Homo sapiens: one gene and its partners. The protein of the gene in region 4 interacts with the protein of the main gene of each other region in a pairwise test. Each region holds a gene or a part of one and is shown on either strand. Other genes may lie near its edges.

What was found.
Region 1: the proteins of GNB2 (region 4) and CFTR interact in binary tests that used the Homo sapiens proteins (3 or more experiments, as listed by UniProt).
Region 2: the proteins of GNB2 (region 4) and UBE2S interact in binary tests that used the Homo sapiens proteins (3 or more experiments, as listed by UniProt).
Region 3: the proteins of GNB2 (region 4) and UBE2U interact in binary tests that used the Homo sapiens proteins (3 or more experiments, as listed by UniProt).

Annotation. Positions count from the first base shown.
Region 1 is NC_000007.14:117,665,025-117,670,814, reverse strand, and holds the end of CFTR (cystic fibrosis transmembrane conductance regulator), read right to left. Parts: intron 5,357-5,790; coding exon 5,251-5,356; intron 3,908-5,250; coding exon 3,707-3,907; 3' UTR 2,150-3,706; downstream 1-2,149. UniProt on the Homo sapiens protein: Epithelial ion channel that plays an important role in the regulation of epithelial ion and water transport and fluid homeostasis. Mediates the transport of chloride ions across the cell membrane.
Region 2 is NC_000019.10:55,398,792-55,405,984, reverse strand, and holds the end of UBE2S (ubiquitin-conjugating enzyme E2 S), read left to right. Parts: intron 1-1,506; coding exon 1,507-1,697; intron 1,698-1,837; coding exon of another isoform or gene 1,838-1,984; exon of another isoform or gene 1,985-2,022; intron 2,023-2,642; exon of another isoform or gene 2,643-2,853; coding exon of another isoform or gene 2,854-3,042; intron 3,043-3,327; exon of another isoform or gene 3,328-3,395; intron 3,396-4,222; coding exon 4,223-4,549; 3' UTR 4,550-6,240; downstream 6,241-7,193. Other genes in the region: RPL28 (large ribosomal subunit protein eL28), read right to left, coding at 2,854-3,042. UniProt on the Homo sapiens protein: Accepts ubiquitin from the E1 complex and catalyzes its covalent attachment to other proteins. Catalyzes 'Lys-11'-linked polyubiquitination.
Region 3 is NC_000001.11:64,205,767-64,214,415, forward strand, and holds part of UBE2U (ubiquitin-conjugating enzyme E2 U), read left to right. Parts: intron 1-997; coding exon 998-1,090; intron 1,091-4,975; coding exon 4,976-5,073; intron 5,074-8,649. UniProt on the Homo sapiens protein: Catalyzes the covalent attachment of ubiquitin to other proteins.
Region 4 is NC_000007.14:100,667,951-100,677,530, forward strand, and holds the start of GNB2 (guanine nucleotide-binding protein G(I)/G(S)/G(T) subunit beta-2), read left to right. Parts: upstream 1-5,789; 5' UTR 5,790-5,973; intron 5,974-8,226; 5' UTR 8,227-8,315; coding exon 8,316-8,372; intron 8,373-8,584; coding exon 8,585-8,623; intron 8,624-8,742; coding exon 8,743-8,849; intron 8,850-9,401; coding exon 9,402-9,465; intron 9,466-9,547; coding exon 9,548-9,580. UniProt on the Homo sapiens protein: Guanine nucleotide-binding proteins (G proteins) are involved as a modulator or transducer in various transmembrane signaling systems.

The DNA of each region.
Region 1 (5,790 bases), about 17 Mb from region 4:
AAGAACACAAGCCAGAGGAGCATCTGTGACCTGTGCTTTTCCAAAGAGGGTTTGGGAACTTTAATATTTAAAGAGTAAAGTGCAAACACGGAGAAGGAAAAGAGGATAGAGGGTAGGCAGTGAGGCAAATGGTTCTATTCAGGGGAGGCTTTGGTTAGTGTTCAGTAAATCCAAATTTTATAGGTAAAAAGAGGGAGTAAAGGAAAAGTCAATTATGTGTTCATTGCAGGGTAGACAGCACGATGATTTCTGGTCTTGCCCGCGTCCTGTGCCTATGAAGACAAGCTGGTAATTGACATCATCAGGGTGAAATTCAACATAACTCAGTTTTAGGGCTATTTTATAGGAGGGATATGTATCCTAAAAGATAGGGTCTCACAAGGATTTTCCTTGGGCACAATTGTGAGGGAGGTCATTTGGGGAGATATGTGGCCTTCTATCATTGTGGGAACCTGGTTTATGGATGAGGCTATCACACAAGATTGTGAAGTTACGGCTGTTAGGGAACAAAAGGAAGGCAATATTGAGTAATTCAGCTCTGAAGCTTAACTTGCCCTTTGGCATAGTGAGCTTGGGGTCTTGAAATTCTATTTGCTTTCACAGTTGTAACAAATGTACTACTTTAGTGTGGGATGTTGAATGGGGGAGGCTATCATGTATGGAGAAGTTATATGTGAACTCTCCATACTTTTTGTTCAATTTTGATGGGAACCTAAAACTGCCCTAAAAAAAATAAAGTTTAGTAATTTTAAAAAAAGAACTAGACTAGAACACGCTCTGAGACTGCCCTCTTGGGGTTACGTGTGAAAACAAACCTCTCCAAGAAAGAGAACACAGGGCCGGAGGGCCTGGCATTCAGTAGGGATCTGCAGTCCGTCCACCACATGCTAGCAACTGCACATTTCATGAAGAAGCTCAACAAGGAAGAAAAAAAGGAACTAAAGAAGCCTCATCAATTAAAAAGAGGGATTTGGACAAAGAAAATCCATGCAGGTGCCAACGCAGAAATAGTATTTTCGTTGATGAAGATTTTTAACTTACCAAGAGCTATGAGATAGCTACCACTTTTTGAATAAGCTTTAAAAGAAATAGATGGACACTTGCAGAATATAAATCTTTTGTGTTCTATAAGCCTCCATTTAAAAATAAAAATAACTTCAAACATATCCTAAGTAATGAAAGCAGGGACATGAAGAAACATTTGTACACCCATATTTATAGAAGCATTATTCACTATATCCAAAAAGTGGAAGCAAACCAAGTAGCCAGTGATGGATGAATGGGTGAGGAAAAATGTGGTACATATTTATAGAGTGGTCCCCCTATCCAAGGTTTTGCTCTCTGTGGTTTCAGTTACCTGTGGCACAGTATAATGAGATATTTTGAGAAAGAGAGAGACCACATTTGTATCGCTCGTGTCATAATATATTGTTATAATTGTTCTATTTTATGATTATTGTTGTTAATCTATTACTGTGCTTAATTTATAAATTAAATGTTATCATATGTATGTGTGTATGTATAGGAATAAACACAGTAATCAGGTTCAGTGCTATCAGTGATTTCAGGCATCCATTGGGGGTCTTGGAACATATTCCCCAAGGATAAGGGGGGACTACTCTATAATGAATATTATTCAACCTTAAGAAGGAAGAAAATTGACCCATGTTGCAACATGGATGAGGCTTGAAGACATTATGCTAGATGAAATAAGCACAAAAATACAAATACTGTATGATCCCACTCCTAGGTCCTTCGAGTAGTCAAAATCAGAGACAGAAAGTAAAATGGTGGTTGCCAGGCATTAGAGGAAAGATAAATGCGGGATTATTGACTAACGGGTAAAAAGAGTTTCAGTTTTGCAAGAAAAAAATTCTGTGGAAGGATGATGGTGATATTTGCACAACCATGTGAATGTACCTAATGACACTGAACTGAACTTTAAAATGGTTAAAATGGAAAATTTTATGTTATGTATATTTTACCATAGTTTAAACAGATAACTAAAAATGTGTGTTCTAATTCATGTGAATTCTCAAAAGAGGCTATATCTAAAAGACAGATTCGTGTTTCATGTTCCATGAAGCTTAGAAATTGGAGTGAGAGACTGATGAAACATGACAAGTGAACGCATCTGAAAACAACAAAGTTTCACACAAATGTATGGATTTTATTGACAAGTGATATTTTCTTACAGTAATAAATATAATGCAGTCTTCTTAAGAGTCAGTTTGGAGTTGAGAAGGCAGTGTACCCTTGATGGAAACAGTCAGACTGGTGGTACCATCTTCTTCAGAACTGCATCTAAGAGGCTGTGCTGGCTGGGAATCATACAGCTGTGGGCAACAACTGCATCAGCCCCAAGGCTTCCCTCCAGACCAAAAGGTGATTCATGGCCCCTGGTTAATATCACCCTAGGTTCTCCCCTGTCCCAGTTTTAACATAATATTTCATAGAAATACTAGTGCCATAAAAAGTCAATATTTCAAATATAAAAATTATTTTATACAAATGTAATTCATAATCATTCTTTTAAAATACAGCATTGTTATATATGTTTGAAACATTATTAAAATAAATATTTCCTAGAGAAAAAATTTTGCTTCACAAAATTATAAAACAGAAGCATATAAAACTAATTCATGATTGGTGCTTCTTCAGTGTGTCTCTCATTCTCTCTTAGTGTAGACAGCATGAAGTACATACATCTAGCCTGAAAACATACCACCATCAACCTATACATCTAAATGCTTGGACTTCATGTGTGTCTACCCACAGTGCCCATGGCCTATCTACTTACACACCCTCTACCTGGAGCTTCTGTGGAAAGAAGGGCTGTCCTGTGACAATTTGCACTAACATACTTTTCCAGCTAAACTCTAGTTCAAAGGTCTGTGAGCTTGTCACTTTCTGGAGTTGGGAAAAGGCATATCAACTTCTTCATCAAGGGAACCATCCTGTCCCCTGTGAAAGATTATAACAGCCCTTTCCCAGGTAAGGGATGTATTGTGATTATCTGAAATATTGAGATTTTTGGTAGACCTGGACAATACTAACCCTGATTTCCAGGATCTGGAAGTTCTCTTTCCTGACTGCTCACTAGATGTTGAATGGGGCATATTTTGATGTGCAGTCTTGTGGTTCCTGTGGTATTCTAATACTTGCTTGGAAATGAGATAGTTGGAATGCTTAGCAAACAATATAGTTGTGTTTCTAAACATCATGGGGAGAGGAGAGAAAAAGGAATACAAGCTTATATAAACCGCTGAAGTTTCCAGTTATCATTACTTAATCATAACCCTAAGAAGTATGATTTCAGTTCTTCTCCAACACTACAAATTAACGAGTTTCACTAGACAATAAGCTGATCAACTAGGCTGATTGACATTTAGAGCTGCCTTTCCAATTACTAGCACATGGCAAGGGTTTTCAGGAAAATCTGGCTTGCAAAACACAAGTGGTAAATCTTCAAGGATTTGAAGTACCTTTCACACAATTTGACTATTGCCAGGAAGCCATTTATCAAGACCCATATCAGTGTCCTCAATTCCCCTTACCAAATGTTTCTTTTTTAAAAAAAAACTTAATTCATCCTTGTTTTCTGAGGCAGAGGTAACTGTTCCACGAGCTCCAATTCCATGAGGTGACTGTCCCACGAGCTCCAATTCCATGAGCAAATGTCCCATGTCAACATTTATGCTGCTCTCTAAAGCCTTGTATCTTGCACCTCTTCTTCTGTCTCCTCTTTCAGAGCAGCAATCTGGGGCTTAGACTTGCACTTGCTTGAGTTCCGGTGGGGAAAGAGCTTCACCCTGTCGGAGGGGCTGATGGCTTGCCGGAAGAGGCTCCTCTCGTTCAGCAGTTTCTGGATGGAATCGTACTGCCGCACTTTGTTCTCTTCTATGACCTAGGGAAATGGCTGTTAGTGAGATCTGGGACAGAAGGCAGGTCAGACCAGAGCAGGGACAGAAACTGGCACAGGCTCAAAGGAAAATAAAAGTCAAAGAATGCAATGTCCAGAGCCTTGCATTTTGAACAATCAGGTATGTCACATTTAACTGCTGTGTCCTTTTGCTCTAAGGAGGTTCTACCATCTGTGAAATTAGTTGTGATTTTCTACTCAGCAGCTGGAAGATTCTTCAGGGAGGTTTAGTAGAACTGAAGTTGCTTTGAAAACAAAATATTAGGTCCCTTATAAATTACCTAGAAAATGAGCGTAAGTCTACAGCACCATAAAGAGTTGAGCCTCTTCCACAGTGATCTGAAGCTTAAGAATTCCAAATTGGTCAGGATGTGCCTGAGTTTAATACACCTCCTTGGCTTGTTCAGGTTGAGCAAATCCAAGATCAGACAATAGAGGACTTTACTTAGATTCTTGAACTTGTCCATGGCAGGGCAAGAGGTTGTGAGTCTGCCCCCCTAATTTGTTACTTCAAGCTTAGTGATAATCATGGTAATAACAAGCCTTCAGTAAGGAAACCATTTACCTCCAGGAGGCTCAAAAGCCTGAACAGAAATGACGTGATACATCATCCTCAGAACTTCCTTGTGACTAAACCATAGGGAATTTGTAAACATCACTTGAAAGAAGCTGTGACAGTTTTGTTTTGTTTTAATAAAGACAGATGGGGCCTCACTATGTTGCCTGGGCTGGTCTTGAATTCCTGGCCTCAAGTAATCCCCCCACCTCAGCCTCCCAAAGTATTGGGATTACAGATGTAAGCCACTGTGCCTGGCCATGTGACAGTTTTTTTAAGAACAGTGAGAAGGTGGTTGAGAAAGGTACTACCTGAACCCAAATCATGGCTAGAAAAATGAAATGTGCCTCTCAACTTTGTCATTAATACCATAAATCAGACTGTAAGACAACTAGGCCTGTCCCAGACCACATCCATGGGACATTTAGTTATTGAAAGAATCACAGGGACCTTTTTTAAAATCTTAAACAGTAGAGTATTTTGTATGACTTGGTCCCCAAATAAAGGGCTCAAAAAGTATATATATCCTATTTATAAACATAACTTAGTAATATGCTGCCATTTTAGATTTACTATATTTCAACCTCACCACATGGCTCAGATCAAAGTGAAAAACTTGTGCAGCTATTTTGAGTAAAGCTGGATGGCTGTATGATACATATTTTTGAAAAGAACTTGTACATTGTTGCAATTTGCAGGAACTATCACATGTGAGATTGTTATCAAGAATTACAAGGGCAATGAGATCTTAAGTAAAGTTATAAAGACTCACCAAAAATTGTTGGCATTCCAGCATTGCTTCTATCCTGTGTTCACAGAGAATTACTGTGCAATCAGCAAATGCTTGTTTTAGAGTTCTTCTAATTATTTGGTATGTTCTAGAAAAGAAAGAAAATACCACACATAATATCACAGAACAGTAATGATCTGTATTTACCTTGATAATATGTCTATTGTTCTATTATCTCTTTAAATTACTTATTTCTTTAAGTTCTTTTCACATAATGTTGATATAGCGTTAGCCACAATCAGCTTTTCAACCATGGGGTAGACTCTAAGTATCCATAAATAAACAGGACAAATATTTCAAAGAAACTTTAATAAATGAGTACATTTTTCATTATGTAGAATCACCAGTACTTCTTTATTTGGGGCTATAAACATGCTTATGGTATAAATGGGATACAAAGGCAAATCATAAGGATCAGATTAGGCCCATGTATTTAAAAGCTTCATCATGTGTTGACAAGGGGGAAGAGTTTGTATGAAACTAAAAACTATCTTCGGAAGAAAACACAAGACTCTTAGCAAG
Region 2 (7,193 bases), on a different chromosome or scaffold from region 4:
AAGTTCCTATTGACTGTAGTGAGGAGAGCCGGCCTGGCAGGGGGAAGAACCCAGAGGCCAGCCAGGAAGCTAGCCTTGGAGATGGGATGAGATTCAGGGGAGGACCTAGCAGGCCGGTGCTCAGGCTGCTGATGGGCTAGGGGAGGGACAGTATTTTGACCCAAGCAAGTGGGTGAGTGGGAGAGGCGTTCACTGGGTTGGGAGGCTGTGGAATTAACAGACAGTTGGATCCTTGATCTGAAAGGCATATAAATGGGCATCTTATAGGAAAGTGCGTACTTGGGTCCCTGCCACCTGGGAAGGGCCTGTGACTGGAGTGGTCAGTTGGGCTGAGACGGGGGATCCAGGAGGGTGCAGACGAGCTTGATAGTGACACAGGTGGGGGCTGCAAGATGGGCATCATCTCTGAGGTTTTGGGGGAGGTCCTGTGGCCCCCTAGGAACCCAGCCATTCTTGCTCTTTTTTTTTTCTCTCTCTAAACGGAGTCTTGCTCTGTCGCCTAGGCTGGAGTGCAATAGCACAATCTCTGCTCACTGCAACCTCTGCCTCCTGGGTTCAAGCAGTTCTCCTGCCTCAGCCTCCCAAGTAGCTGGGATTACAGACGTGCACCACCATGCCCAGCTAATTTTTTGTATTTTTAGTAGAGATGGGGTTTCACCATGTTGGCCAGGCTGGTCTCGAACTCCTGACCTTGTGATCCGCCCGCCTCAGCCTCCCAAAGTGCTGGGATTACAGGTGTGAGGCACCGCGCTTGGCTTTTTTTTTTTTTTTTTGGAAACAGAGTTTCGCTCTTGTTGCCCAGGCTGGAGTGCAGTGGCGCGATCTCCGCACACTGCAACCTCCCCATCCCGGGTTCAAGGGATTCTTCTGCCTCAGCCTTCCGAGTAGCTGGGATTACAGGCATGCACCACCACGCCTGGCTAATATTGTATTTTTAGTAGAGACGGGGTTTCTCCATGTTGGTCTGGCTGGTCTTGAACTCCTGACCTCAGGTGATCCACCCGCCTTAGCCTCCCAAAGTGCTGGGATTACAGGCGTGAGCCACCACACCTGGCCTCTTGCTCTTAAGAATTCTACAGCCTGACTGGGCATGGTGGTTCACGCCTGTAATCCCAGCACTTTGGGAGGCTGAGGTGAACAAATTGCTTGAGCCTAGGAGTGCAAGACCAGCTTGGGCAACATAGTGAGACCCTATCTCTTAAAATAAAAAAGTAGCCAGACCTGGTGGCATGCCCGTAATCCCAGCTACTTGGCAGGCTGAGATGGGATCACCTGAGCCCAGGAATTGCAGGCGGCAGTGAACTGAGATTGTGCCACTGCACTCCAGCCTGGGTGACACAAGAGACCTTATTTCAAAAAAAGAAAAAAAGAATCCTCCAGTCTGTTGGCAGAGTTGGCGGGGCACCCACCTGCATCACAATCAGACCGTGGAGACTGGACTTTGGGGTGTTGAGGTGCCTTGGGACTCCTGAGTGCCCTGACCCTGTACCCCTCCCTCCACTCCAGAGGGGACCCCATATGCTGGAGGTCTGTTCCGCATGAAACTCCTGCTGGGGAAGGACTTCCCTGCCTCCCCACCCAAGGGCTACTTCCTGACCAAGATCTTCCACCCGAACGTGGGCGCCAATGGCGAGATCTGCGTCAACGTGCTCAAGAGGGACTGGACGGCTGAGCTGGGCATCCGACACGTACTGCTGGTGAGTTCTGGGCTGGGGCTGGGCCTCCTGCCTCCTGCCTCTGGAGGTCTGCTGGTGTCTGAGCCATAGCGCTTTGTTTAGTTTTTCTGAATCAACTCTGAAGTGGTTGAAGGTTTCCACATAAAAATCCATGTTGCTAGCTTTCCTGGAAAGACAAACAGTGCCAGACCCAGGACACCCAAGTACTGTTGAGAAGTGCCCAGGAGCACCTTACTATGCAACGAGTGGTGAGTTTGTATTGTAGGATGGTTTTTCTCTTCTCCCTTTTTTTTAAAAAACAAGGATAGGGTAGGCCAGGTGTGGTGGATCACTTGAGCTCAGGAGTTCGAGACCAGCCTGGCCAACATGGTGAAACCCTGTCTCTACTAAAAATGCAAAAATTAGCCGGGCATGGTGGCACATGCCTGTAATCCCAGCTACTTGGGAGGCTGAGGCAGGAGAATCGCTTGAGCCTGGGAGGCAGAGGTTGCAGTGAGCCGAGATCGCGCCACTGCACTCCAGCCTGGGTGACAGAGTGAGACTCTATCTCAAAAAAAAAAAAAAAATAAGATAAAAAATAAAACAGGAATGGGGTCTCATTTGTTGCCCAGGCTGGTGTCAAACTCCTGAACTCAAGTGATCCTCCCACCTCGGCCTCCCAAAGTGCTGGGCTTATAGGAGCCAGCCACTGCGCCTACCCTGTAGGACAGTTTTCTGACAGGTGGAGGTCAAGGGTCTAGTTAGAAGCTCTTTCTTTCTTTTCTTTCTTCTTTCTTTCCTTTTTCTTTCTTCCCTTTCTTTCCTTTCTTTCTTTTTGTTTTAAAGATACTGGCTCTTTGTTGCCCAGGCTGGAGTGCAGTGGCGCAGTCATAGCTCACTGTAGCCTTGAACTCCTGGGCTCAGGTGATCTTCCTGCCTCAGCTTCCTGAATGGCTGGTATTACACGCATGCACCACCATACCCAGCTAGTTTTTATATTTTTATGGTTTGCAGAGATGGGGTCTCATTAGAGGCTTTTTTGCTAAAGCTGAGCTTACATGCCGTAAAACTCAGTTCCAAAGTATACAGTTCAGTGGTTTTTTAATAGCGATAGGGTTCATAAACCAGTGTTTCTCAGCCAGAGGTGATTTTGCCCCCCAAGGGGTATTATGCATTGTCAGGAGACCAGAAAGGGTTGTCACAACTCGGGGGTGCCACTAGCATCTAGTGGGTGGAGGCCAAGGGTGCTGCCCAAATCCTGCAGCGTACGAGATGGCTCCATGACACAGAATGACCTGGCTGCGGTGTTGCTGAGGTGGAGGCGTCCTGGTCTAGGCTGGTGCTCCAGGCTGCTTACAGCCTGCTGCCTCCCAACCCTTCCCGCAAGCTGAAAAAAAAAAAAGTTAACCAAATTTCTAATGAGTCCCTGGGGCACATGGCAGAGAGGGTGGGGAATTGGGGTTTCCTGCCATGGGGAGGGAGAGGATTGAGCTCCAAGGTAAACAGACCCCAAACCCTTCCCTCCCACATGTACCGCCTCCCTTCCCCTGGGGTGTCATTGGAGGCTGCTGGGGACATTGGCACCGAGCTCCAGGCCTACTTGCTGCTAGGTCAGCATCTGGGCCTGTCAGGGGCTCAGCCAGCAAGAAGAGCAGCCAGACCTGCAGTTTGGGTGCAGTGATGAGAATTAGGGTGGGAACCTGTGTCCTGGTCACCATCAGTGATATCTGCTGAGCATCTGCTGAGCCAGGTACTGTGTATGTGTCATAGTGGCCCCAGGGAGCAAACTGCTGTGGCCAGTTTGCCCAGACCCACTTCAGAGGATCCAGCTGGGGCTGCTGGAGGCCTGGCTGCAGGTCACACCTCTGCACTCCAATTTACCCCTCAGGACGGGCTGTGAAGGGGGTTGAGAGGAATCTCTGGACCACCCTCGAAGTGCACCTCAGCCAGCAGTCCTGGTGTCTTGCCCTCTTGTGTGTGGTCCAACCCAGCTAGAGTCTTAGGCTGTGAACTTCGGATGTCTGATAAAAGACAGAGGTCAGGATTTATGCTGTATCTGGAAAGATGGGGAGCTTTAGAGTCCAACACGCAGGTGTGATTTCCTCAAATCCTGAGGCCCTGGGGAAGTCTCTTCTCTCTGTCCAGGCTGCAGGCCTCACTCGTTGAACCAGAGGGCCTCTAAGGTCATGCTGAACTGCATGGAGGCAAATTCAAAACCATAATAGGACTCAAGTCTGGGGCTCAGGCAAGTAATGGACTCCTGAGAGGGGGCCTTGGCGTTTCCCCCGTTACCCAGCAAGTTCCACGGAGGACCAGGGACATTTTAAACCATTGGGCCTATGGCATCGTGTCCTTTTGGGAACATCTGCTGTGAGGCAGGTCACATGAAGGTGGCCTCTGAGGGAGACAGGAGCAAAGATGAGGGAGGATGCAGCATAGGTGGGGCCTGGATCTGCAGCTGAGTTGGGAGCAGAAGGAACAGCCAGTGCGGAGGCCACCCTCTTGTGGAGGCCTGGGGGTCCCTGTAGGTTGCCCGACCCACTGTGACCCTGAGCCTCTTCCCACAGACCATCAAGTGCCTGCTGATCCACCCTAACCCCGAGTCTGCACTCAACGAGGAGGCGGGCCGCCTGCTCTTGGAGAACTACGAGGAGTATGCGGCTCGGGCCCGTCTGCTCACAGAGATCCACGGGGGCGCCGGCGGGCCCAGCGGCAGGGCCGAAGCCGGTCGGGCCCTGGCCAGTGGCACTGAAGCTTCCTCCACCGACCCTGGGGCCCCAGGGGGCCCGGGAGGGGCTGAGGGTCCCATGGCCAAGAAGCATGCTGGCGAGCGCGATAAGAAGCTGGCGGCCAAGAAAAAGACGGACAAGAAGCGGGCGCTGCGGCGGCTGTAGTGGGCTCTCTTCCTCCTTCCACCGTGACCCCAACCTCTCCTGTCCCCTCCCTCCAACTCTGTCTCTAAGTTATTTAAATTATGGCTGGGGTCGGGGAGGGTACAGGGGGCACTGGGACCTGGATTTGTTTTTCTAAATAAAGTTGGAAAAGCAGCTTCTGTGTCTCACAGATGCCCCAGGACCGCTGCATGGTGCCATGTGGCTCTGGGAGTTTGGCTCCCCTGCACAGGCCCTGGGTCCTTGTAAAGCCTCATGGACTGCAGCAGTGGGTCCATCTAGCTCACCAGCCTTGCTGTTTGAGGTTTGGGTCCACCTCTTTGTTCTGTGGAGGTAGAGCGGTCACAACCCCTCTTTGGAGTCAGATTTCCAATCTAAAATGGGGCGAGGACCTGGAGCTGCTCCTGGTGGCCTGAGCGGCACTGCCCTATACTTCTCCCTCTAGAATAATGGCCACGTTGGTGTGGCAGTGGTGTTCCTGCTCAGGACGGCCAGGTGCCAGCAGTCTGGCATGAGGCTCGCCTCGTCTGTCTGGTTCTGGACTGGGCCAAGGTTCGGTCCCCTTGAATCATCTGATCCTGCTTTGTGCTAAAGATTGGTTTTTCCCTTGTGGGCAGCAAAGCCTGTTCCCACATGTATTTCTGCACAACAGATCACAAAGCCAGCGGCTTAAAACAACACCCACTTCAGACTTTGTGTTGGAAGTCTGGACACGGCTGAGCTAGTCTCTGCTCAGTGCTTTGCAGGCTAAAATTGAGGTATTGGTTGTTGGTGTTCCTTAGTCTGGGTCCTCTTCCATGCTCATGGTTGTTGGCTGATTTCAGTCCTCGTAGAACTAGGGTCTTAGCTCCAAGAAGCTGCCCCTCCTTGGGCCCTGGCAGGTCTGATTTAAGGGCCCATTCCCTTTGAGGTGCTCACCGGATTAGGTCAGGCCCATCCAGATACTTAAGTGATAATGACTAAATCACAGGGGTAAGATCCCAGCTTAGTCTTAGTTTCTGCCCTCAAGGGGAAGGGATTAACCTGGGTGTGCACACCAGGGGGTGGGGAAACTTCCCATTCTATTAATGCGTTTAGGTTATTTAGACCAATGTCTCATTAATTTTAAAAAAATTAAAAATAGGCCAGGCGCAATGGCTCACGCCTGTAATCCCAACTTTAGGAGGTGAAAGGATCACTTGAGGCCAGGAGTTAAAGACGAACGTGGGCAACACAGTGAGATCCCATCTCTACAAAAAGTAAAATACATTTACAATAAAAATCTACAAGTTCTGACCCATAGGAGAGTGGAAAACTCAAAGGCTGCTTTTGTCCTGAAAGAATTTGCCTATTCTAATAAAACAGCTGAGGTTGAAACGGCTCAGCCTCTGAAAGGGGTCTGACCCTTCCTTGAGCCCTTGCCTCCAGTGACAATCTCCCAAGCTAAGGGAGAAAAGGAACCAAAAGTCTGCACTCCTCTCTACCTCTAGCAGTGCAGGGAGCGAAGGAAAGACAAGGGAAGAAACCCTTCAGATTTTCAGATCAAATTCACATCACTGGCCATCCAAGAAATCTTAAGCTCTGCGTTTATCGTCAACCATTTCTGCATGAGGGAAGCAAACAGTCCTTGCTGAAGGAAGGTGCCTGCATCCTGGGCCTCGGAACCCACTGAAATAATTTAGCGAAGTGCATAATAAAAATAATATTTGCCCTTAGCCCTGACAGAGTTCCTCAATCCCTTGGAATCTCCTGGGTATTAATAGGAGCAGTCTTTGTCCTAATGAAGCCATCTGTGATGGGCCCCTGCGTAGCTTCAGGAAGGGGGTTGGTCACTAGAAATACCAAGACCGAATTAGACAGTTGGGAATTTCAGCCCCACCCATACCTACCAACCTCTGGGAAGAGAGGGGCTGAAGGTTGAGGTCAATGACCAATGGTCAATGATTTGTCTAATATGCCCATGTAATGAAACCTCCGTTAAAACACTAAACAAGGTTGGGTGGGGTGGCTCACGCCTGTAATCCTAGCACTTTGGGAGGCCAAGGCGGGCAGGTCACCTGAGGTCAGGAGTTCAAGACCAGCCTGGCCAACATGGTGAAACCCTGTCTCTACTAAAAATACAAAAATTAGCTGGACGTGGTGGTGCATGTCTGTAATCCCAGCTACTTGGAAGGCTGAGGCAGGAGAATCTCTTGAACCTGGGACACAGAGGTTTCAGTGAGCTGAGATCCTGCCACTGCACTCCAGCCTGGGTGACAGAGCGAGACTCTGTCTCAAAGAAAAGAAAAGAAAAGAAAAGAAAAAAATTAGCCAGGCATGGTAGTGTGCGCCTGTAATCTCAGCTCTTCGGAGGCGGAAGTGTGAGGGTCACTTGAGATGGGCAGGTTGACGCTGCAGTGAGCTATGATCGTACCACTGCACTCCAGCCTGGGTGAGAGAGGGAGACCCTTCCTCAAAACAAACCGGGCACGGTGGTTCACCTGTAATCCCAGCATTTTGGGAGGCCAAGGCTGGTGGACCACTTCACGTTGGGAGTTCAAGAGCAGCCTGCCCAACGTGGCGAAACCTCATCTCAACTAAAAATATAAAAATCAGCCAGGCATTGTGGTGCATGCCCATAGCCTCAGCTATTCAGGAGGCTGAGGCAGGAGAATTGCTTCAACCCAGG
Region 3 (8,649 bases), on a different chromosome or scaffold from region 4:
CATTATTAGCCCATCCTCTTTTTATGTAGGATAAGGTCGCATTATATAAATTTCCTGAAATTCTTCTTCATATGCATAAGTTTGCATTATACCAGTTGTCTAAAATTCTAAAAATATTCCCATTTTTTTTATTTATGACTTTTTTGCCATGTGTCAACATAGATGGAAATTTGGGGTATTTTTCTTTATGCCAAATCTTAATTTTATTACATTTTTAAGAAGCAGACACAATAGAGCATATCAATTGAGAGAATATCGTCTGCCTTCCGTGAGATCAGGGAATAACTATCAAAATTCCTATTGGCTTCAAAACCCCACAGTTACTTCTCATTTTTTCCTTTATGATTTTCCCCCAAATTTTCATAAATCAAAAAATCTCAAGAACACTAAGCCACTATAAACTTTAATGCTCATGTTTTCTTTCAATTATGGATTAATAAGATAGATTCCTTGAGTGAGGTAGGGGAGACAAACACATCAGCTGATAATTACAATAAAATATACATTATTATGGATTTTGAACAGAATGCTAAAGAGGAAGAGGATTAGTTAATTATGCCTGAGGGAGTCAGGAATGTCTTCCCAAGGAGATCACATTTGAGTTGAGTCCTGAAGAATCTGCCAGGTTCAGAAGAAGGATAAGGAAATTCGGGCAGAGTAAACAGCACAGCAAAGACTTGTAGACAAGAAAGGGTGTAGCAGATTTTGGGAACATGAGTTCAGTCAATACGAGATACAACAGAGGGGGTGGATGTTAGGGCGACAAAGGTAGTAGATGGAAAGGACTAGTGGGAAAGAGACTGAAAACGTATGATTATAATAGATTGTGAAGTGTCTGTTATACTATCCAGAGGAGTCGGTGCACTCTATGAATCAATTTACTTAAAAATAAAACTGTGGAAAGACTAAACCATAGGGAGAAACTCCAGTGTTAATCAGGTTACAGTTAATCAATAAACATGACACTTTAGTAAAAATGTTTATTTCTATATTATAGGTTTAGTCTTCCAACTGACAATACATTTTACATCGGAGTACAACTATGCTCCTCCAGTTGTGAAATTTATAACAATTCCGTTTCATCCAAATGGTAAGAACTAAATGACATTTTTATCATTAGAGGCTTTGTCCCTATTATCCTTGTTTCTTATAATAATCATGTTTCTTTTTAAGAACTTTATTATGATTCTAAAAGTAAGAACTCTCATTGGGGAAAATATGAAAAGGCTGGAAAAAATTAGCAATCACCTTAAATCCTAATGCAAAGAGAAAATACTGTCAACATTTTGCCAAATTTATTTTCCTTTTTTCTAAGTATGAATTTTTTCTATACAGTTGAGGTATTATGCATGAAGTTTTGCCTCTAGGTTTTTGATTTTATTTATTTTATGGTGTTTTTTTTGAGACAGAGTCTCTCTCTGTCGCCCAGGCTGGAATGCAGTGGTGTGATCTCGGCTCACTGCAACCTTCACCTCCCAGGTTCAATCGATTCTCCTGCCTCAGCCTCCCCAGTAGCTGGGACTACAGGCATGCGCCACCACACCTGGCTAGTTTTTGTATTTTTAGCAGAGATGGGGTTTCACCATGTTGGCCAAGCTGGTCTTGAACTCCTGACCATCCGCCCACTTTGGCCTCCCAAAATGCTGGGATTACAGCTGTGAACCACTGCGCCTGGCCTAGGTTTTTAATTTTAAAACTATATGTCTTTTTTCTGCATTATTAAACAGTCTTCAAAAGATCATCTTAAATGGTTCAACAATACACTTAACCATTTCTGTATTGTTCAATATTTTAGTTGGATCTAATTTTTCATTATTATAAAAAAACGATGCACTGGACAGATTAACTTTTTTTAAATAAAAGGTAAGTTAGATTGCTACTTAAAGTTATACACAAAACCAATTCCTGAAGGATCAAAAATCTAAAAATTTTAAATGCTGGAAAAGAAGGAAATCTAATAGAATTTTTATGGGCTTGGTGAGGAAGACGTTTCTCAGCATGATAAAACCCAGTAACTGTATGGAAAATATGACACATTAAACTGCAAAACCTGTTAAAACTTCTCTACGGCCCAGGACATTATACTCAGAGGTCAAAGACACTGACTTTTGCAAACTGAGGGAAAATATTTGCAATGCATGTAACAGAATATGTATACCATATGAAGAACACTTGTCAATCAATATAAAAAGAACATAAAGCAATTAAAAAATGGAGAAAGGCTATAAACAAACACTGGACAGAATAAACAACAAAAATAAACATAAAAAGATTATCAATCTCACTACTAAGAAAATAAAAGCAAATTAAAACAAAAAGTATTGTTATTTATCACATATTCATAAAATGTCAAAATATAACATACATATTTAGTAGGCATGGGCAGACATTGTTCCTCTGATATAATCATGACCTTTTGAGGAAGTAGTGTGACAGTTTCTAATCAGGTATAAAATGCATATATCCCTAAATTCCCGTAATACCATGTTTATAAACTATTCTGTAGAAATATTAGCACAAGTGTGCAAGAGTGTGTTATATTTAAAGACGTTTATTCCCACCAGGCTCAGTGGCTTATGCCTGTTATCCCAGTACTTTGGGTGGTCAGTGGGGAGTATTGCTTGGGTCCAGGAGTTTGACACCAGCCTGGGCAACATAGTGAGACCTGTCTCTACAGAAAATAAAAAAATTAGCTTGGCATGGTAGCATGTGCCTGTAGTCCCAGCTACTTCAGGTCTGAGGTAGGAGGATTGCTTGAGCCCAGGAGGTCGAGGCTGCAGTGAGCCATGATTGTGCCATTGCACTCCAGCCTGGGCAACAGAACAAGACGCTGTCTCAAAAAAAAAAAAAAAAAAAAAAAAAAAAAAAAAAAAAAAAAAAGATGTTTATTCCCAACAGCAATGTTAGAAATAGGAAAAATGGAAATAACTTCAATCTCCATTAACACAGGAATTTTAAGTGAAATATCCTACAGTTACGTGTATTGCTTCTAAACAGAACGAGGAAGGTCTACGAACCTTTTAGGTCTAGATCATTGCTATATCCTTAGAATCTTCACTGCGTGGCATATAGTAGGTATTCAGATATTTTTTGAATAAATATTTGTGTCCAGAAATATGTTGAAAATACATTGTTAAGTGAAAAAATACATTGAACAATAAAATGTAAAATATATTCCCATTTAATAAACACACACATATGGGTGTGTATACATATATGTGTTTGTGTGTATATTTGTATAGACCAACTGGTAATATTGGTCTTGAATAGTAGAATTAGTAGGCAGGGGAACATTCATATTTTACATTAGATTTTTTATGTTTTTTTCCCAAGTACATTATTTTATTGTAATTAAAACCTATTTTTGGTATCTATAACACAAAATTAATTACATACGTGTGCCTTTATTTGTTTAAAATAGTTAGAATTATTGGATTAAATTCAATGGGGGGAGGTACTCTTATCCCCTAGTCCTCATCCCTCCCACTTCCATAAAGTAGAGGGAACTTTAGTCTCTAGGAGGGGGAAGGTATAGGAAAACTTGTGACTGCTCTTTTTTTTTCCCCCATCACTCCTCCTAGAAGTCACTTATCTGATTAGGGAGATGAAGGAAAGAATTGAGCATATGTGGCCCAGAACTTGCTCAACACTCTCTCCTTCTGACCATACTGGGTATAGTCTCTTTTGCTCCAGGCAGGAAACTTAGGCAGGCCTTCGGTTTGGGAGTTAAGTTTAAATCAGGGGGACTTTTGTGGAGCCTGATTAAAGCCATTCATCAAGTGCGTTCTCCATTTCAGTCTTATGTGCAATGAAGCTGATGTTTTTACTTCCACCTTTCAATACTTTGATCTATTTTATAATTACATATGAACTTGAGGGGAGAGAAGGGTTATTTACTAGCTTTCAACCCCCGCCCCCGCCCGCCCCGCAAAAGATGGCTATGTACAGTTTTAAGTCTTTATATAAAAAGCCAAATTGCCTTTCGGTGGTATTTGTACTCCTACCAAAAAGTACATATAAAGTTCTTATTTTAGCACCTTCCAATTCTGGCCATTGAAACTTTGAAGAAAATTTTTTTGCCAATTTGGTAAGAGTCTTGCTATTATTTTAATAAGCACTTCTTTGAATACTTGAGAAGTAAACATTTCCCACCTTTGTTGATTCTTATTTTGTGACTCGTATGATACAATTGACAGTGCTATCACATTGTCCTAGATGTTGCAAATATTTCCTCTAATTTGTCATTAATTTTCAACTTTGTTTATGCTGTTTTTTCACATCTGGGATTTAGAGATTTTTATGATTTAAAATAAATTTATATTTAAGATCTATTAATCTTGTCCTTTGAGGCTTTTGCAGTTGTCTTTCATCTTAGATGATCCTTTCCCAAAAGAAAATCAAATAGTCATTTTAAGTTTCTTCTAGTCATTCTACAGTTTTATTTTTCTTATTTAACTCTATTATTTTTTCAAACACTAAATTACTTAACTGTGTTAGGGCATATGCCAAGCTCCTGTACATCTTTCCAACTTAACATAACAGGACAACGCTGGAGGGAGGTTGTGCCCATCCTCAATGTGAAGATTCCATTTCTGGGACTAAGGCATTTACTGTTTGTCACCATTTCCAGTCTGGGGGAAGGGGGAAGAAAAGAAGGAAAGCCAGCTTCCTTTAAAAAAAGACTCAGAAATTGCACACTTATCCTTATGTCCCACAACAAAAACTTAGTCACAAGGCCACATCTTGCTAAAGGAGAGGATAGGAAAAACTGTAGGGGCACCTATGTATTCAGCTAAAACAACATGGTAATGGGTGGGAACCAGGGATGGGTATAGTGCTTCTCAGTACAGAGAGAAGAACTAGGAAAAAGGAAGAGTAAATGCAGATAATTTTTCTGGCTTATCATTTTGATGTTTGTAAGTTTTAAATAATAATTTATTATAAATGCAAATATTAATGTATTATTTTAATACAGTAGACCCACACACTGGTCAGCCCTGTATAGACTTTTTGGACAACCCTGAGAAGTGGAATACAAACTATACATTGAGCAGCATCTTACTTGCCCTACAGGTAAGAATGGATTTCATATAATCCTCTCTTTAATACTTTTAATTACCCTAATTATTCAAACTACAAGGATTAAAATATACAATGCATATTTAAGTGTTTAAAGAATTTGAGAAGTTTATTTAAATCCATACTTCTATATGAAGGCTACAAAGTGGAACTTACTTAAATTATAAAAACTATTATTTAAAGTGAAATTGATAGTTAAGGCCCCTCAAGACCAAAGAATGCATATCTTATAAAAGAATAAAATAATTATTTAGATGGTTTCAATTCTGAAAATATAACCTTAGGTTTTCTTTTGGTTCCTAACTTCACTTCCTGATGTTGAGCAAGCCTTTTAGATCTTTCTTCATTTATGGACCTTGCCTTCCTGAGAGAGGTGGATCGAATGACTACAACTTAAAATGTTCACTTTTGTTTTTTGTTTCTGACAGTGCTAGTTAGCTACTTTCTGTCCCAATAGTGTTCACATCAAACCCAGTGAACAATTTATACCAAGGATTTTCTCCTCTCCTCAGATGCCTGTTTCTCAGATGCCACCTTTACCCACTGGACCCATGGTCCTTAGAAGCATACCTCAGTGTTGTGCTATTTCTTTTCTTTTCTTTTTTTCTTTTTGAGACAGGATCTTGCTCTGTCACCCAGGCTAGAGTGCAACGGCACAATCCTGGCTCACTGCAGCCTCAACCTCCTGGGCTCAAGTGATCCTCCCACCTCAGCCCCTCAAGTAGCTGGGACCACCGGCATGCCCTACCATGGATGGCTAATTTTTTAAATTTTCTGTAGAGACGGGGTCTCACTATGTTGCTCAGGTTGGCCTCAAACTCCTGGGCTCAAGCAATCCTCCCACCTCAGCCTCCCAAAATGCTGGAATTACAGGCAAGAGCCACCACATCCACCCAGTGTTGTGTTATTTCTGGTCCTTAAAAATGCCTCCTTTCTCATCTAATGCTAAAATGAATTATTTCAGTGAACTTGCTTTGACCTCTTAGAGCTAGCTTAGCAATAATCTATCCATGACCTACTTATCACCAATAATATCTGAAGATAAATAATTACATTTTGATTATCTAGAATACTTGGAATATAAAATACTCTGGCATAATTGAGTTTTTAAATATAGAATTATAATATAAATTGCATTTCTTCTATTTCTTGTATTTGAAAATAAATAAAATAATACTTTCCTGGCTAGTCATCTTAGCATACTAAGTAAAATATAATCTTTAGGAAAGATTCAATGTTCAGTTCATTCATTCATTCTACAAATATGTATTGAGGATCTACTTGTGTGAGGTTGTGTTCTAGGAAGGAGACATTTGAGCAAAAAATTTAAGGGAGTGAGTGAGTGTGATATGCAGAAATCTGGGGTTAATCCTTTGGATTCCTTTAAACTGAGACATATTCTGATCTCATCCACCTAAACTAGAGTCTGCCCTAAGAATAGCAAAATGATCCCAAAATGTAATGAGTAAGGGCAAACCAGAATGAACTGGTGAAAATTTTGAATTGCAGAATAATTTGATAAAAGGAAAATGTGGGGCTCTGAGTTAGCTTGCTTGGCTTCACATCCTGGTTCTGCCACTTGATACCTTTGTATCTATCATTGGACAAATTTTTCCACTTCTCAATGTCTCAATTTCTTCATCAGTAAAATGGGGCTGTTGTTACCTCATGTAACCTGTGAGGAGGAAATTAATTAATGTGTGTAAAGAATTCGGAACTGTGCCTGGTCCAAGAAAATAACTCAATAGTTAATACAGGTCGAGTATTTCTTATCTGAAATGCTTAGGAATTGGAAATTTTTCCAATTTTTGAATATTTGCATTACATATACTTACCATTTGAGCATCCCAAATTTGAAAATTTGAAATCTGAAATACTCCAGTGAGCATTTCCTTTGCACATCATGTCGGTCCTCAAAAAGTTTTGAATTCTGGGGTATTTAGGATTTCAGATTTTCAGATTTAGGATGCTGAACCTCTAGTTAGTTAACATTATGATTGTTCTTACTATTAAAGAGTAATGCAAAGTGACACCAAAGTGTTGCCAAATATATCATGGAAAGCCAGTAGATAACACAATTTTGTCTTTTTATTTTTCGAAAACATTAATAAAACAAATATGCCCACATTACAAAAGATTTTTAAGATAATGGGAAGGAAAAGAAAATCACTGACAATTATAAAGAAAACCCTTAACTTTACTGTTACTAGGAAAGAGCTTTCTGCTCTTTTCTCCTGTTTTTCAGTTTAAAATCTTTCAGTGGATCCCACCTTCTCCACAGGTGTAAGCTCTAGTTCTGTTGCATATCTAATCCTCACACCTAGACTCTCCCTAACACACCAGGCAATCCTGCTCATACTTATATCTTCATGCTTTTCTGCACTCACATTGCTTGGGTCAATTCAGATAAAAAAAACATTCATAGAGTTCTAAAGTTACCTTAGAAATGGTCAGTCTCCAGTTCCCCTCTGCCTGGCAACTCATTTTCTCCTCTTCTCTTCCTCAGTCTGTCCAGCAAGCAGTTGTTCATGTTGTTGTAAGAGTTGGAACAAATGAATCGTCCTCTAGGATACCTTTTCTGATTTATTTTCCTAGGGAGAATTAATAGCTTTGGTTTTGGGGGAGCTTCCTTTGCTACACACCCAACAGTACCCTGAGCAGATTTCTGTTAGAACACTAATACTATAAAGCACACACTGCTTACTTATCTGTCTTCCCCTATTGGACTGCAAGCTCCCCAAAATCAGGAAACAGGTCTAATTCATCCTTGATTTCCTGGAGCATACCAAAGACAATGCTGACATTTGGTAGATATTAAATAAAATGAATGAATGAATGAACCTGAATTTTTACATTATTGCTATTATGGTATGTATATTGCCATGTGCTTAGCAACAAGGATACATTCTGAGAAATGAGTTGTTACACATTTCATCGTTGTTTGAAAATCATGGAGCGTACTTACACAAACCAAGATGGTATAGCTTAATACATACGAAGGCTATGTTATAGCCTGTTGCTCCTAGGCTACAAACCTATACAACATGTTACTGTACTAAACACTATAGGCCATTGTAACACAATGGTAAATATTTGTGTATCTAAATATAGAAAAAGTACAGTAAAAATTTGGTATTATTATCTTATGGGACCACCATGATATATGCCGTCTGTTGTTGAGTGAAACATTGTTATGTGGCACGTGAGTATGTAAACTATACAGCCTGTTTCTTTTTCACTTAACATTGTCTCTCAAGTAACTTCCATATGGTTATAATCAATATTTTAATAGCTATTCAGTATTCCTTTGAAGGTCAGTGCTGCGCAGTAGCACTTTCTGCATTGATGGAAATGTCCAATATATCTCACCGTTCAATACAGTACCTACTAGTCATATGTGGCTACTGAGCACTTGAAATGTTACCACTGTGACTAGGGAGCTGAATTTTTAATTTTATTTAATTTTAATTATTTTAAATGTAAATAACCACCTGTGACTGTGCCTACAGTGATGGGCAATACAAGTTGAGACCATAATGACTAACTACTTCTTTCTTGATAACAAATTAG
Region 4 (9,580 bases):
TCCAACCCAGATTTCTCTGCTGAATTCCAGGACTGTGTCTACAGCCACCTATTAAACATTTCTCCTGGATTTCTCAAAGAACTAAAAATAGAACTACAGTTTGACCCAGCAATCTCATTACTGGGTATTTACCCAAAAGAAAAAAAATCCTTCTACCAGAAAGAAATATGCACTCGTATGTTCCTTGCAGCACTATTCACAAGAGCAAAGACATGAACTCAGCTTAGGTGCCCATCAATGGTGGACTGGATAAAGAAAATGGTACATGTATGTTATGGAATACTATGCAGCCATAAAAAGAAACAAAATGAAGAAACAAAGAAACATGTTTTTTGCAGCAACATGGATGCAGCTGGAGTCCATTCTCTTAAGTGAATTTAGAGCAGGAACAGAAAACCAAATACCATATGTTCTCACTTGTAAACAGGAGCTAAACATTGGGTACTCATGGACATAAAGACGGCATCAATAGACACTGGGGACCACTAGGGGGAAGAAGGAAGAAGATGGGGCAAGGGTTGAAAACTATTAATACCTAATGGGGCCAGGCATGGTGGCTCACGCCTGTAATCCCAGCACTTTGGGAGGCCAAGGCAGGTAGATCACTTGAGGCCAGGAGTTCAAGACCAGCCTGGCTATCATGGCGAAACCCCATCTCTACTTAAAATACAAAAATTAGCCAGGTGTGGTGGTGCACACCTGTAATCCTAGCTACTTGGGAGGCTGAGGCAGACGAACCACTTGAACCCAGGAGGCGGAGGTTGCAGTGAGCTGAGATCGTGCCATTGCACTCCAGCCTGGGCAACAGAGCAAGACCCTGTCTCAAAGAAAAAAAGAAAAAGAAAAACTACCTATTGGGTACCGTGCTCATTACATGGGTGATGGGATCAATCGTATTCCAAACCTCAGTGTCACACAATTTACCCATATAACAAACCTGCACACGTACCCCGTGAATCTAAAATAAAAGTTAAAAAAAACAAAAAAAGAGGCCGGGCACAGTGGCTCACGCCTGTAATCCCAGCACTTTGGGAGGCTGAGGCAGGTGGATCACGAGGTAAGGAGATCGAGACCATCCTTGCTAACACGGTGAAACCCCGTCTCTACTAAAAATACAAAAAATTAGCCGGGCCTGGTGGCACGTATCTGTAGTCGCAGCTACTCAGGAGGCTGAGGCAGGAAAATCACTTGAACCCAGGAGGCAGAGGTTGCAGTGGGCCGAGATTGCGCCACTGCACTACAGCCTGGGCGACAGAGCGAGATCCGGCTGAGTGCGGTGGCTCACACCGGTAATCCCAGCACTTTGGGAGGCTGAGGCTGGCGGATCGCTTGAGGCCAGGAGTTCGAGACCAGCCTGGGCAACATGACAAAACCCTGTCTCTACAAAAAAAAATACAAAAAATTAGCCAGGCATGGTGGTGTGCACCAGTAGTTCCATCTACTGGGGAGGCTGAGGTGAGAGGATCATCTCAGCCCAGGAGGTCGAGGCTGCAGCAAGCTGTGATTGCGCCACTGCACTCCAGTCTTGGTGACAGAGTGAGACCCTGTCTCAAAAAAAACAAAACCAAAAACACCAAAAAAAATTTTCTCCATAGGCACTTCAAACCTAAAACTTCCCAATCTTAAACTCTTGATCTTCCTCCCAGAATATGTTCCATCTCAAATGTTCTGCTCGAAGTAAACAATACCTCCAGGCCAAGCACTGTTATTTTTTCATTTTTGTTTGTTTGTTTTGTTTTGTTTTGTTTTGAGACAGGGCCTGGCTCTGTCACCCAGGCTGGAGTGCGGTGGCAGAAATTCAGCTCACCACAACCTTTGCCTCAGGAGTTCAAGTCATCTTCCCACCTCAGCCTTCCGAGTAGCTGGGACTACAGGCGCACGCCACCATGTATTTCTTTCTTTCTCTCTCTTTTTTTTTTAACGACGTAGTCTTGCTATGTTGCCCAGGCTGGTCTTGAACTCCTGGACTCAAGTGATCCGCCCACCTCTGCCTCCCAAAATGCTGGGATTACAGGTGTGAGCCACCACGCCTGACCCTAATCCATATTTCAATGCCCATCTGCCTCCTCTATAGATTGCAAGCTCCATGAGGAGGGTGCACCTGTCATTCAAGGTTGCATCCTCATTGCCTAGGGCAGTGCCTGATACATCATCCGGTTCAGTAAATATCAACGGAATGAGTTAAAACAGGAAAGCTTATTAGCACAGAAACCAAAGCAGCACACATGCCCTCTTGAGATTGACAAAATTGTGCTGTAGTCCTGCGCTGCTTGTTGTTAAGTGACTTTAGGGAAGTCATCGTGGCCATCTACAGATTGAGGAAATCAACGTAATTATCTCTGAGGTCCCTCCCAAATTCTCATGTGTAGTTGACATCTGTTATCTATTGCTTATATGTCACTGAATTGGCAGGTATGCATAAATAGAATTTGCATCTAACTACGAATACGATTGTTTATATTTTCTTTAAAAAAATATTGGGCTTTTGTTTCTCATATTGAGAGCTCTGTTATGCCATTTTCGAATTTCTCCCAGATGTCCCCCCCGGCCCACCTTCAAACTCTGCTTCCTTAGACAGATTTGGCAATAGCTTTGTAAGTGATATGGACATAATTGCCTAAAATAATGAAAACCTACAGGATTCTTTTTTCATTTTCCCTTTGGCATGTTTACAATTCCCTGCCCCACCAGGCAGATCATTCTGTGTGTGTGAGTGTGTGTACCCATTACAAAGACAACTACTATGTTCATAACATATTCGATTTGGAAAAAACAATTGTAGGCTGGGCACGGTGGCTGACATCTGTAATCCCAGCACTTTGGGAGGCCGAGGCGGGCAGATCACGAGGTCAGGAGTTCAAGACCAACCTGGCCAACATGAAACCCCATCTCTGCTAAAAATGCAAAAATTAGCCAGGCCTGGTGGCATGCTCCTATAATCCCAGCTACTCGGGAGGCTGAGACAGGAGAATCGCTTGAACCCAAGAGGCAGAGGTTGCAGTAAGCCGAGATTGTGCCATTGCACTCCAGCTCTGGGTGACAGAGCAAGACTCCATTTCAGAAAAAAAAAAAAAAGAAAAAAGAAAAAACAATTGTTTTTGAAAAGTGATTTGTAATGTCTTTCACAGAGACTAAATGAAGAGTATGTTTTGATACTTTTTAAAATATAATTTCATCTTTTTAGATTCTGACTCATGTGCACATGAATGTACCCATGTACATGGGTATATCTTGTGATGCTGAAGTTTGGGGTACAATTGATCCCGTCACCTGGGGTACAGTACCCAATAGGTAGTTTTTCAACCCTTCCCCCCTCTAGTAATCCCCCGTGTCTATTGTTCCCATCTTTATGTTCATGAGTACCCAGTGTTTAGCTCCTACTTATAAGTGAGAACATGCAGTGTTTGGTTTTCTGTTCCTGCAGAAATTTATCCACTTAGGATAAAAGCCTCTAGCTGCATCCATGTTACTGCAAAGGACACGATTTCTTCTTCTTTTCTTTTCTTTTGTTTCTTCTTTCTTTCTTTCCCTTCCTTCCTTCTCTCTTTTCTTTCTCTTTCTCTCTCTCTCTCTTTTCTGCATCCATGTTGCTGCAAAGGACATGATTTCTTCTTTTTTCTCTCTTCCTTTCTCTTTCCTTTCTTTTTTTCTTTCCTTCCCTTCCTTCCCTCCTTTTCTTTCTTTTACTTTTTCTTCTTTTGTCTTTCTTTCTTCTTCTTGAGTCAAAGTCTTGCTCTGTTGCCCAGGCCGGAGTGCAGTGAGTGGTGTGATTTTGGCTCACTGCAACCTCCGCCTCCCGGGTTCAAGCAATTCTCCTGCCTCAGCCTCCTGAGTAGCTGGGATTACAGGTGTGTGCCACCACGCCCAGCTAATGTTTGTATTTTTAGCAGAGACGGGGTTTCACCATATTGGCCAGGCTTGTCTCAAACTCCTGACCTCAAGTGATCCACCCGCCTCGGCCTCTCACAGTGCTAGGATTACAGGCGTGAGCCCCATCTCGTTCTTTCTTATGGCTGCGTGTTTTGATACTTTCAAATTACAAGGACTCAGTGAAGGCTATTCGTTGCCTTGAACTTCCCAAAGCATTTCCACAATCGATGGGGTTCTCAGTAAGAATCCGGGACTTGGAGGGCAGATGCTGTCAACATCCCCATTTAACAGATGTGGAAACTGAGGCCTAGACCTACGTTCTTGTCCCTTTACAGGCAAGGTCCCTGGAGGAAGGGGTTCATCTAGAGGCTCATACAGATAAACTGGAATGTACAGTAAAGTTTTGGCTGCCTGGGTTCATATCTAAACTCTGCAGCCTCAGGTCTCTTTCCACTATTAGAAAATGGGGAGAAGGCTGGGCGCGGTGGCTCACGCCTGTAATCCCAGCACTTTGGGAGGCCGAGACGGGCACATCACCTGAGGTCAGGAGTTTGAGACCAGCCTGGCCGACATGGTGAAACCTCGTCTCTACTAAAAATACAAAAAAAAATTAGCTGGGCATGGTGGCGGGCGCCTGTAATCCCACCTACTCCAGAGGCTGAGGCAGGAGAATCGCCTGAACCCAGGAGGCGGAGGTTGCAGTGAGCCGAGATCATGCCACTGCACTTCAGCCTGGGCGACAGAGTGAGACCCTGTCTCCAAAAAAAAAAAAAAGAAAAGAAAAGAAAATGGGGAGAATGTTAGCACTTAATTTCCCAGTATTGTGAGACTTAACATATGTCAGCCTGGGCAGCATAGCAAGACCCCACCTCTACCAAAAATTTAAAAATTAGCTGGGCATGGTGGCTGGGGCACGCCTGTGGTCCCAGGTACTAGGGAGGCTGAGGCAGGAAGATCACTTGAGCCGAGGAGATTGAGGTGGCAGTGACCTACAATCGCGTCACTGTACTCCAATTAAAAAATAAGTGTCGGGCCAGGCGCGGTGGCTCACGCCTGTAATCCCAGCACTTTGGGAGGCCGAGACAGGCAGATCACGAGGTCAGGAGATGGAGACCATCCTGGCTAACACCGTGAAACCCCGTCTCTACTAAAAATACAAAAAATTAGCCGGGTGTGGTGGCACACGCCTGTAGTCCCAGCTACTCAGGAGGCTGAGGCAGGAGAATCGCTTGCACCCGGGCGGCGGAGGTTGCAGTGAGTTGAGATAGCACTCCAGCCTGGGCGACAGAGAGAGACTCCGTCTCAAAAAAAAAAAGTGTGGCTCTCAATAAATGAGTTGTTATTTCAGTGGCAAGCCCTGAAAGGGGGTCTACAAAGGCCCAGTGGGCGAGGCTGAGGAAATGCCTGGACACGACCCTTCTCATGGCATTCCCGGGGCGCCCGCATCAGCCCCTACCCACTCCCGCTCGGGGACTTTCTCGGAATCGCGCTTCTTCTTCCAGCAGCCTCGAGGCCGGCCCCGTCCAGGTCTCTTTAGCTCCGCCCCCTGGTGAGGGGCGTGGCCTCCTCAGGGCCGGGGCGTGGCCCAACCGGGAACTGGGGCGTCGAACTCCCCTTCCCAGTCTGGAGCCACCCATTCCAGGCGGGGCGGGAGGCTGATCACGTGACCAGCGAGCGGTCTCACCCTCCTCATATGCCAGTACCACCTCCTCCAGTCCCAGAGGGGGGATGTCTTACTCCTTTCCGTGAAGCAAACCCTTTGAGTACGGTTTGCGTCCACAAAGCGTAGGGTGAGAACCTTGGGAGCGACTGGGCCCGTCTTTGCTCCCTCGGTGGGGTTTTGTCTCCTGGCTTCCCCCAAGTGCGAGGCAGTTGGTCTCGCCCAGCCGGGTCCTGGGCGCGGCGGCGGCAGCCGCGTCACTGGCGGGCGGGATCCCTCCGCTCTGGGGAGGCAGCGCTGGCGGCGGGGCTGGGGCCACTGAGGAAATCCATCCGCGCCGCCGCCGCCGCCGCCGCCGCCGCCGCCGCCGCCTCCGCCGCGGAGGAAGACAGCGCCGCCCGCGCACCGCCAGCGACCTCCGCCGCAGAGTCCCACCGCCACAGGTACCTTCGCTGGCAAAAGGAGTCCTCTCGCCCCCCAGCCCCAATTTCCCCCAGGGGAACCTCTCTTCCTTCGGTCTCCCGGGGCTGGCCTCCTGGGAGCGGACGTAACTCCCCAGACCTCCGCTCCCTTCCCCTCTTGCCCGGTCGCTCCCAAACCCGGAAGGGGAACTGGGGAACCCTCGCCCCCCACCGTGCGTGCGCTTCCCCGCACCATCAGCGAAGTTTTTGCCCGACCCCAGACCCCAGCCCAGCCCCGACTGCCTCTTGCTCCCTCGGAAGTTGGGGGGCTAAATTCCGGGCTTCCTCTAGGCCCCGCCCCGCCCCCTTTCCCCACCGCCACCCTCCCGCCTGCCCCCGGGGAGCACCCCTCGTGTCCTCCACTGTCGCACCCCTGCCGGCCCTCGCCTTGCACAACTCCAAAATCGGGGAGAAGCAGGCAAGGCCGCGCGCCACCCTTCCTTTCGTCTCCACCCTACCCACGATTTGGGTGCTGCCCGTGGTTTCTGGCCCCACTCGCCGAAACTGGAGCCCTCGGCGCCCTATTCCCTTTACAGATCCTCACCCCAAGCCCAGCTCCCAGGCGCCCGCCCCCCGCCCAGCTTTCTTTTAGGCAAAATGGAGGTCGTAGGGGCTGGAGGGCCAGGCCCACTGCGCTTCGCAGCGCCGCACCAGCCCGCGCCTTCCAGCTGCCAGATCCAGGGACCCTCCCGTCACTCTCCTGAGCCCCGCCAGACCTGCGGAGGCGGTTGCACCCTCATTTCTCTATGGAGCGCCGGCTGCTATATCCCTAGAGTCTGGGGGCTGCTGAGGGCCCTGGGGGGTGATGGGGACCGAGGGCTGAGAACGTCGCCCCCGCCCCCAGTTTCTTCCTCCAGCCGTGCTTCCTTCTGCCCTGGGCCTCCGGCGGTGCCGCCAGGCCTGGGCTGCTAGTAGGTGGAAGAGGCTTTGTGCGGGCCTGGGGGTTGGGTAGAGTAAGGAGTTCTGCCCGCACCCCCCATCCCCCGATTTTGAGGGTCACCCCTTGGCACTGGCGTAGAAAGCTGAACTTACAAGGAGGGGAAATGTCAGTGGGGAAGAGGAACGCCCTGCGCCTGGGGGAAGTGGGAGCTGGGTGGGGGACGCCTGGGCCGGCCAAGTGCAGTGTGTACGGCCGGATCGCACAGGTGTCCCGCGGGCGGGGAAGGACTCAGGCTCCCGGAGCGGAGCCAGCCGGGCCCCTGGGGCCCGGGCGCCGAGCCTGCGGGCTGGGCCCCCCGGGTGTCCAGGGCGCCGCGGCCAGGCCGCCTGGGGCCGCCCGCCCGCGCCTGGGAGAGAGCACCTCCGCGCCTCGGGGCCGGGGACCTCGTTGCGGAGCCGTAATTACTCGAGAGCGGCTCCCACGGGCTTTCTGCGGGCGCGGCGGGGCGGGCGGTCCCTGCGCTGGAGGGAGCAGCGGCTCGGGGCTGCCTTCCCCGCCGCTGTCACCCCCACCCGCGGCGGACGGCTAATGGGGCGCAGCCGGACCGGGGATTATCCGGGGTGAGCCGTCCAGAACCTATTAGCGCCCAATCGGCTTTTCCCAAATCCTGTAAACAGCCACCCGGGCCGGTTCTGGGGAGGGCGGGAGGCTGGGTCGGGCGGGGGCGATGGGGCCGGGGGTGGGGTCACCCACCCTACAGGTCTCTGCCGTGGATGCGGTTGCCTTGGCAACGGGGCTAGGGTGGGGGCATTTCACCAATGAGGTGCTCTCGGTCCGGGTGACGGTTGCCTAGGCAACCCCACGAACAGCCCAGCTTTCCCCTCTGGTCTCTCCCCCCACCCGCCACCATCGAAGCTGGGGGTGTGTGTGGAGGGTGTGCGCCTTGTGGGGTGAATTTCAAGAGGCACCGCCCCTTTTAAAATTAGGTGCTTGGAGGGCGGTGCCTGTGCGGGCTGGGGCAGAAGCCAGGTCTGTTTTCGAAGGGACACCCCCGCCCCCCCCGCCCCAGTTCCTGCCGCGGGTGTCCTGCCCGGGCTGTGTCCGAGGGAGGGGTTTCCCCTGCGCTTCCTCTTGCACTTCCCGCTCCGTTTCCGGGGGGCGGGAGGAAGATTGGGGAAGTCGGCTCTTACTCGGCGACGTCTCTGGTGCCGGAGACCCTGGTTGTGCCCGGGGACGGCGGCCGCGCCGCCCCTTCCCCCTCCCCTTGCTTACCCCTTCCGGGCCGCGCTGCAACCCCGCCTTTCTCCCCACTTCCCCGGCGGCCTCGGGCCTGACGTCAGCCCTGCATCCCCCAGGCCTCGGGCCAGCGGCCAGGAGCTGCCTCCCCCAGCCCCCGTCCCGCGGCCCCCAGCCGCCCCCAACCCTGCCCCACGGGCCCGGCGCCATGAGTGAGCTGGAGCAACTGAGACAGGAGGCCGAGCAGCTCCGGAACCAGATCCGGGTGAGGGCCTGGTGCGGGGCGGGCGATTCATGTGTACACCGCCCGGTGCCCTGGACCGGGTTGGGTGAGGGTGTTGGTGGGGGAAGGGGGAGGGAGGGCCCCTTAATGGCTCAGAATCTGACCCTGTCCACTCCTGTCTTCTGTTCTCTTCTCTCCCTTTCCTCCCCAACCTGTCTTCTCTCGCGTCTCTCTGGCTCTGCCATCCCTTACAGGATGCCCGAAAAGCATGTGGGGACTCAACACTGACCCAGGTGAGGGCACTTGGTGGCCAGAGCGTAACTAGGGGTTGAAGGGGCAAGGATCAGAGGCCGCTGCCCTCTGCAGTCCTGCTGCCTGGGCCTCCCCGAGCGCATTCTGTCTCTACCTCCAGATCACAGCTGGGCTGGACCCAGTGGGGAGAATCCAGATGAGGACCCGGAGGACCCTCCGTGGGCACCTGGCAAAGATCTATGCCATGCACTGGGGGACCGACTCAAGGTGTGTGTGTGTGCGCGGGCTGGCGCTGTGGGCCGACTTTCTAGCAGGCCGTGGGAGCAGCCTCAGATCTGGCGGAGTAAGCAGGCCACCAAAATACCCAGCGTACGTCTGGAAAAACGGTGACTCCCAGACATGTCCGCCAGACCTGGACAGGCAGGACCATGCTGGTGAGAACTTGTGGGCTGCAGCTGGAGACTGTCTCTCAGGTGGCTCACGCCTGTAATCCCAGCACGTGGGGAGGCCAGGGCAGGATCACTTGAGCTCAGGAGTTTGAGACCAGCCTGGGCAACATAGTGAGACCCTGGCTCTACTAAAAATTGAAAAATGAGCTGGGTGTGGTGGTGCTCACCTTGTAGTCCCAGCTATGCGGGGGAGGCTGAGGTGGGAGGATCACTTGAGCCTAGGAGTTCCAGGCTGCAGTGAGCTGTGATGGTGCCACTGCACTCCAGCCTGCACAACAGAGAGAGACCCTACCTTCTCCCACCCAAAGGGAAGGGGGTGTGTCTTGTTTTCACGCCACCCTTCTGCTCTCCCTACACCGTTCCCCACCAGGCTGCTGGTCAGCGCCTCCCAGGATGGGAAGCTCATCATCTGGGACAGCTACACCACCAACAAGGTAGGGTGGCGCGGGCTGCGGGGTGGGGCAGGGCCACAGGGCCCTGGCTGGCTCTGACCCCGGCGCTTCCCCTGCTCCGCAGGTCCACGCCATCCCGCTGCGCTCCTCCTGGGTA